Homo sapiens: one gene and its partner. The protein of the gene in region 1 purifies or fractionates together with the protein of each later gene. This does not show direct contact. Each region holds a gene or a part of one and is shown on either strand. Other genes may lie near its edges.

Region 1 (3,816 bases):
TGTTAGGTAGCACTTGCTGCTTCACCTTGTACTTTCGTGTTATGGGGACAGCTTCTTTCCTTAAACCTCATGAACCAGCCTCTGCTGCTTCCAACTTTTTTTTTTTTTTTTTTTTTTTTTTTGAGATGGATTTTCACTCTTGTTGCCCAAGCTGGAGAGCAATGGCGTGATCTCGGCTCACTGCAACCTCCACCTCCCGGGTTCAAGCGATTCTCCTGCCTCAGCCTCCGTAGTAGCTGGGAGTACAGGCAGCTGCCACCACATACAGCTAATTTTTTGTATTTTTAGTAGAGACGGGCTCTACTAAATGTTAGCTAGGCTGGGACTTCTGACCTCAGGTGATCCACCTGCCTCAGCCTCTCAAAGTGCTGGGATTACAGGGGTGAGCTGCCGTGCCTGGCTCCAACTTTTCTTCTGCATCTTCCTCACCTCTCTCAGCCTTCATAGAATTGAAGAAAACTTGGGCCTGGTTCTCGATTAGGCTTCAGTTTAAGGGAATGTTGTGGCTGGTTTGATCTAATCAGACCACTCATACTTTCCACATATCACCAATAAGGCTGTTTCACTTTCTTTCCCTCCCTCCCTCTTTTTTTGAGACTATTGCCCAGGTTGGAGTGCAGTGGTATGATCATGGCTCACTGCAACCTCTGCCTCCTGGGTGCAAGCAATTCTCTTGCCTCAACCTCCCGAGTAGCTGGGATAACAGGTGTGCAGCATGTGTCCAGCTAATTTTTGTATTATTAGTAGAGGTAAGGTTTCACCATGTTGACCAGGCTGGTCTCGAACTCCTGACCTCAAGTGATCCGCCCGCCTTGGCCTCCCAAAGTGTTGGGATTACAGGTGTGAGCCAACGGACCTGGCCATTTTCTTATTCATGTGTTCACTGGAGTAGCACTTTTTAATTGCCTTTAAGTTTTCCTTTGTTCTGAGAGGTGATTTAAAATTTCAAAAATTTGTGTATGTATTTTTTTAATTTCAAAAATTGGAAAGAAACTTCTGCTTTGCATTTACAACTTGGCTAACTTGTTTTTTTCTTTTCTTTTCTTTTTTTTTTTTTTTTTGAGATGGAGTCGCTCTGTCGCCCAGGCTAGAGTGCAGTGGCGCGATCTTGGCTCACTGCAACCTCTGCCTCCCGGGTTCAAGTGATTCTCTTGCCTCAGCCTACCAAGTAGTTGGGACTACAGACGTGAGCCACCACGCCCGGCTAATTTTTGTATTTTTAGTAGAGACAGGGTTTCGCCGTATTGGCCAGGCTGGTCTTGAACTCCTGACCTCAAATAATCCACCCACCTTGGCCTCCCAGAGTACTGGGATTACAGGCATGAGCCACCGCACCCAGCCCTTTTTTGTTTTTTTTTAAAGAGATGAAGTCTCCCTATGTTATCCAGGCAGGTCTCAAACTCCTGGCCTCAAGTGGTCCTCCTGCCTCAGCCTCAGGCATGATCCACTGTTCCTGGCCTTGGCTATGTTTTTGAGAGACAGGGTCTCATTCTGTTGCTCAGGTTGGGATGCAGTGGTGAGATCATAGCTCACTGCACTCTTGACCTCTTGGGCTAAAGTGGTTCTCCCACCTCAGCCCCCTGAGTAACTGGGACTACAGGGATGTGCCAGCATGCCCAGCTAATTTTGAAAAAGTTTTGTAGAAGTGAGGTCTCATTATGTTGCCTCGGCTGTCTCTTAAGTTCCTTTCCAGAATGGTGAATCCTTTCAAGCCGCCTTCCTGCCTCGTCCTTCCGAAGTGTTGGGATTACCCATATGAATCACTGTTCCTGACCTGAACATCAAAGATCACTGATCACAGATCCCCGTAACAGACATAATAATGACAAAGTTTGAAATAGTGAAGAATTACCAAAATGTAACACAGACACAAAGTGAGCTCCTGTTTTTGGAAAATTGGCACCAATAGGCTTGCTTTCTTCATACAGGGTTGCCACAGATCTTCAACTTGTGAAAAACATAGTACCTGCTGAGTGCAATAAAGCAAAACACAATAAAAGGTAAAATGAGGTGCTTATAGCCAGGCGCAGTGGCTGACGCCTGTAATCCCAGCACTTTGGGAGGCCGAGGCGGGTGGATCACGAGGTCAGGAGATCGAGACCATCCTGGCTAACACTGTGAAACCCCGTCTCTACTAAATATACAAAGAATTAGCTGGGCGTAGTGGCGGGCACCTGTATTCTCAGCCACTTGGGAGGCTAAGGCAGGAGAATGGCGTGAACCCAGGGGGCGGAGCTTGCAGTGAGCCGAGATCGCGCCACTGCACTCCAGCCTGGGTGACACAGCGAGACTCCATCTCAGAAAAAAAGAAAAAAGAAAAATGAGGTGCTTATAGTCTGTTGAATCTAAAATGCAGCAGTGTGTTATACCACTACAGATGCTCCCAGTGCCTTCTGGCACGCTGCTTTCTTACCCCATCAGTGAAGGATGCTTTTCACTTCAGACATTTAAAAGTGTGCCTTAGAATTGATGAAACATGGTCAGTGAAGTATGACTTGTTTCAAAGATTAACCTTCTGCGCTTATGATCTAAGTGCCAGCAGGTTCTGTGGTAATGATACTGAGTACAATGCATTTTGTTGGGATTCCTGTACTCTATATGTAGTTAACGTTTCTCTGGCAGTAACTTTAGAAAAGTACTACTTGTGAGGCCAGGTGCGGTGGCTCACACCTGTAATCCTAGCGCTTTGGGAGGCCGAGGTGGGTGGATTGCCTGAGGTCAGGAGTTTGAGACCAGCCTGGCCAAGATGGGGCAACCCCTGTCTCTACTAAAAATGCAAAATTAGCTGGGTGTGGTGGCAGGAGCCTGTATCCCCAGCTACTCGGGAGGCTGAGGCAGGAGAATCACTTGAACCAGGAGGTGGAGGTTGCAGTGAGCTGAGATCGCTCCAGTGCACTTCAGGCTGGGCGACAGAGCAAGACTCCATGTCCGAAAAAAGAGAAAAAAAAATACTACTTGTAAATAGCAGAAATAGAAAGGTGCTACTTATGAGAAGTAACATCCTATTTGCGGCTTACACTTTTGTTGCAAATTGTTAAAAGTGTCTGAAACTGTTTAGAAGGACAGCCTGAAACTGCTAAAGTGATGCAAAGTATAGACTCTGGTGGGAGAGGGGGCGTCTTAAATTTTCACGTTTGCTTGGCCTCTGGGGGCCTCTTAACAGCACTTTAAAGGAAATAAATAGATGAAGAAGAGAACAAATTATTTTGAAATACAGTTATTAAAATACTGTATTGAACCAAATTGGTGATAGTCCCATTTATTAGCTTAGTAACCGGATTGAGCTGTGGCTCTGGTAATTCATTTGGGAGTAGTGACGAGATTTTTTGTGACACTCTAATGCTTTGGAAAATACCTGTTGCTGTTCCTGCTAAAACTCCAGGGCTTATTGTCTGCCTTTGTAATTGAAGGAGTGCTACATTTCAGCTAGAAGTTTTTGCCTTTTATCATTCATGTTCACAAATACCAAGTTGATTTACTCTCAGCCTATCCATTTGTAGGAATATATGGTGTCCTTTCTTTACTTCCTCAAATGATTATATTGATGACAAAAGAGACAAGGAAATAAAAACGGCACAGATAGGGGAACCCAAAGCCTAACAGTGTGTGTCCTTGGAGGTGAGGGTGAAGGAAGTGGCTGCAGGCCCTGGGAAGTACCATCTTGCATCCGTGTGCAGCACTGAGTGGATACCTCATGGTTCTGTCTTGTGTACACTGTTCAGGAGGACATGTAGAGTGGACATATCACATAGAAGAAGGTCAGTCTGGAAACTGTTAGGAGAAGCACTCAAGGGCTGAGAGGCATGGTCCTTGGTG
Region 2 (3,816 bases), on another chromosome or scaffold:
GTATTATCACGTCACTGCACTCCAACCTGGGCAAAAGAGTGAGACTCTATCTCAAAAAAAGAAGAAAAGGAAAACTCCAGAATAAGCGAATTCATACAGACTGAACTAGATTAGTGGCTGCCAGAGGCTGAGGGAAGGAAAGATAGCGACAGACTGCTACTGGGCATGGGGATTCTTTTCGGAATAGTTAAAATGTGCCATACTTAGAGAGTGGAGATAGTTGCACAACTTTGTAAATACACTAAAAACCACTGAATTTTGCACCTTAAAGGAGAGAATTTCATGGCATTGTGAGTTTTTTTTTTTGTTTTTTGTTTTTTGTTTTTTTGAGATAGAGTCTCCCTCTGTCGCCCAAGCTGGAGTGCAGTGGCGCAATCTCGGCTTACTGCAACCTCCACCTCCCGGGTTCAAGTGATTCTCCTGCCTCAGCCTCCTGAATAGCTGGGACCACAGGGACCCACCACCACACCCGGTTAATTTTGTATTTCTAGTAGAGACGGGGTTTCCCCATGTTTCCCAGGCTGGTCTCAAACTCCTGATCTCAGGTGATCCACCCGCCTCAGCCTCCTAAAGTGCTAGGATTACAGGCATGAGCCACTTACCTCAGCCAGTATTGTGAGTTATAATAAATAAAGCTAATATTTTAAAATTTTAAAATTTAACTACTTTTAATGGGAAGTGTCTACATGATAAAAGACATTATACACAAAGTTAAGCCAGGCGCGGTGGCTCACGCCTGTAATCCCAGCAGTTTGGGAGGCGGAGGCGGGCGGATCATGAAGCGGATCCTGGCCAAGCAACATGGTGAAACCTTGTCTCTACTAAAAATACAAAAATCAGCTAAGCATAGTGGCGCACACTTGTAATCCCAGCTACTCAGGAGGCTGAGGCAGAAGAATCCCTTGAACCCAAGAGGCGGAGGCTGCAGTGAGCTGAGATCGCGCCACTGCGCTCCAGCCCGGGCGACAGAGCGAGACTCCGTCTCAAAAAAACAAAACAAAACAAAAAAACAAAGTTAAAAGACAAGTCACAGACTGGGAAGATACTTGCAGCTTTTATAATCCATAATGATCAACATCCAGAATATACAAAGAATTACTCAAAAAGAAAAAACGGGCAAAGAAAATGAACAATTTGTTGAACAGAAAATCTTAAACATCAATAAACATATAAAATGGGACTCAGCTTCACAGTAATCAGTACTGTGGTATGCTCACACTCATAAACTGGGCAAAAATTAATGCCTGAAGTTAAGGAAATGCCAAACTTACTTTGAATGCACCCTCTGATTCCATGGATAAGAGATCCCCATCGAATGGAATGAGATCTAAGCTGTACTCCTCCCTGTGAATAAAGGATCCCAAGACACCCAGATCCTTCAACCGCTGTTCGCACAACAGGCTACGGCGTGGCACAAACAGAATATGAAAATCTCTCGTTGGGCCTCGTCTATCTTCACTGCAAAGGAAGCAACATTTGTTAGCTTATGAGCTCCTAAGAGTCATGGACCATTTTGCTTTTTTTATCCCCACTGCCTGGCACATAGCAGGCACTAAATAAATGCTGGCTAGATAAATCATATAAATACTGACTCTCAGGCCGGGTGCAGTGGCTCACACCTGTAATCTCAGCACTTTGGGAGGCCAAGGCGGGCGGATCAGTTGAGGTCAGGAGTTCGAGACCAGTCTGGTCAAGGTGGCAAAACCCCGTCTCTATAAAATATACAAAAATGGCTGGGCGCAGTGGCTCATGCCTGTAATCCCAGCACTTTGGGAGGCCGAGGCGAGCGGATCACGAGAACAGGAGGTGGAGACCAACCTGGCCAACACGAAGAAACCACGACTCTACTAAAAATACAAAAAATTAGCCGGGCATGGTGGCAGGCACCTGTAATCCCAGCTACTTGGGAGGCTGAGGCAGGAGAATCGCTTGAAACCGGGAGGCAGAGGTTGCAGTGAGCCGAGACCACGCCACTGCATTCCAGCCTGGGCAACACAGCGAGACTCCATCTCAAAATAAATAAATAAAAACTAAAACAAAAATATACAAAAATCAGCTGGGCATGGTGGTGTGTGCCTGTAATCTCAGCTACTTGGGAGGCTAAAGCAGGGGAATTGCTTGAACCCTGGAGGCAGAGGTTGCAGTGAGCAGAGATTCCACCACTGCACTCCAGCCTGGGCAACAGAGTGAGACTGTGTCTCAAAAAAATAACCAAAAACTGACTCAGACCCAACGTGTTACAGCTGTACCCACTCTCTCTCTCTTTCTTCCCCCTGACAGGAAAGCATCACTGAGTCCTGGCGAGTACATTTTAGCATTCTCTTAAACCATTTATGGGGCATTGAAGCTCTCAGGTTGATTGAAATAGGATATCTGTGTCTCAATAAAAACAAATGGTTCTTCAACCAAAGCAATGCAGCCACAAAGAGTCTTAAATTAAAATGAAAGATCACTTTTGACTCCCACTCCTACTCTCCTTGACAGAGAACTTCCAAAAATAGCCCATATGCTTTTAAGATTTTAGGGGCTGCAACAATCAATTGTACCACAGAGTGCAGACTCGGCTGGGAGCACTTCCTCTATAGACTGGATGCTATATTAAAATTTAATCAGCTTTTTTTTTTTTTTTGCTTATGAAATTCAAGTACATGCAGTATATTTAAAAATAACTGCTGGAGGTTTATTTTTTTAAACTAGGGCCCTTTTTACTGACACAGGTTTAAGCTTTTGGCTATCTTTAAAGAATGGGTAGCTTTTGGCTATCTTGAAAGAATGGGTAGATAGGATGATCCTCCTCTCCAACTGCTGACAACAACTTCCTAAGTTTCTCATCCTCTCTATTTTTAATTTTTGGGGGGTACATAGCAGGCGCATGTATTTATGGGGTCCATGAGATGTTTTGATGTGGGCATGCAATGTGAAATAAGCACATCACGGAGAATGGGGGGACACATCCTCTCAAGCACTTACTCTTTGAGTTACAAAACAATCCAATTACACTCTTTTTTTTTTTTTTTTTTTGAGACGGAGTCTCCCTCTGTTGCCCAGGCTGGAGTGCAGTGGCGCGATCTCAGCTCACTGCAACCTCTGCCTCCCGGGTTCAACAGACTATCATGCCTCAGTCTCCCGAGTAGCTGGGACTACAGGCACAGGCCACCAAACCTGGCTAATTTTTGTATTTTTAGTAGAGACGGGGTTTCACTATGTTGGCCAGGCTGGTCTCGAACCCCTGACCTCAAGTGATCCACCCGCCTTGGCCTCCCAAAATGCTGGGATTACAAGTGTGAGCCACCATGCCCAGTCTCACTTTTTAAGTTTAAAAATACGTAATTATTATTAACTATAGTCACCCTGTTGTGCTATCAAATAGTAGGTCTTATTCTATTTTTTGTTGTACCCATTAACTATCTCCACCTCCCCCCAGCCCCCATCTTCTCTTTTATATTCTTCCATGCCTATCTCAGTTTTCCAAAAGACCACCTTGCACTGGCAAGAGTGAGGGTCTTCCATGAGAAGGAGCTCATAAATTAAAAGCATTATAAGAACCAAACTCTTTTGGATCAAACACAAGCTCTGAGATACCTGAGCACGTTTTCAGCGATTATATCCATCAACTCTAGCCTGGGTCTGACAAAAAAAATTATATTCTTCACATCAGCTGCCGGCAAACGATTTCCTTTAAGTGTGAACATTTTTTCCACTTCATGTTCCTAGGCAAACACATACACAAAAGGTTAACAAGAAGACTGAAATTTACCTATAATTTTCAGACTCAGAAATCATAAATACCCCCAATCAAGTGCACATTAATATTTT

Evidence for each region.
Region 2: the proteins of PKNOX1 (region 1) and VPS33A purify together in Homo sapiens (affinity purification with mass spectrometry, with the first as the bait; one large-scale study listed by BioGRID). This does not show direct contact.

The regions. Positions count from the first base shown.
Region 1 is NC_000021.9:42,977,443-42,981,258, forward strand, and holds part of PKNOX1 (homeobox protein PKNOX1), read left to right. Parts: intron 1-3,816. UniProt on the Homo sapiens protein: Activates transcription in the presence of PBX1A and HOXA1.
Region 2 is NC_000012.12:122,259,990-122,263,805, forward strand, and holds part of VPS33A (vacuolar protein sorting-associated protein 33A), read right to left. Parts: intron 3,711-3,816; coding exon 3,583-3,710; intron 1,459-3,582; coding exon 1,272-1,458; intron 1-1,271.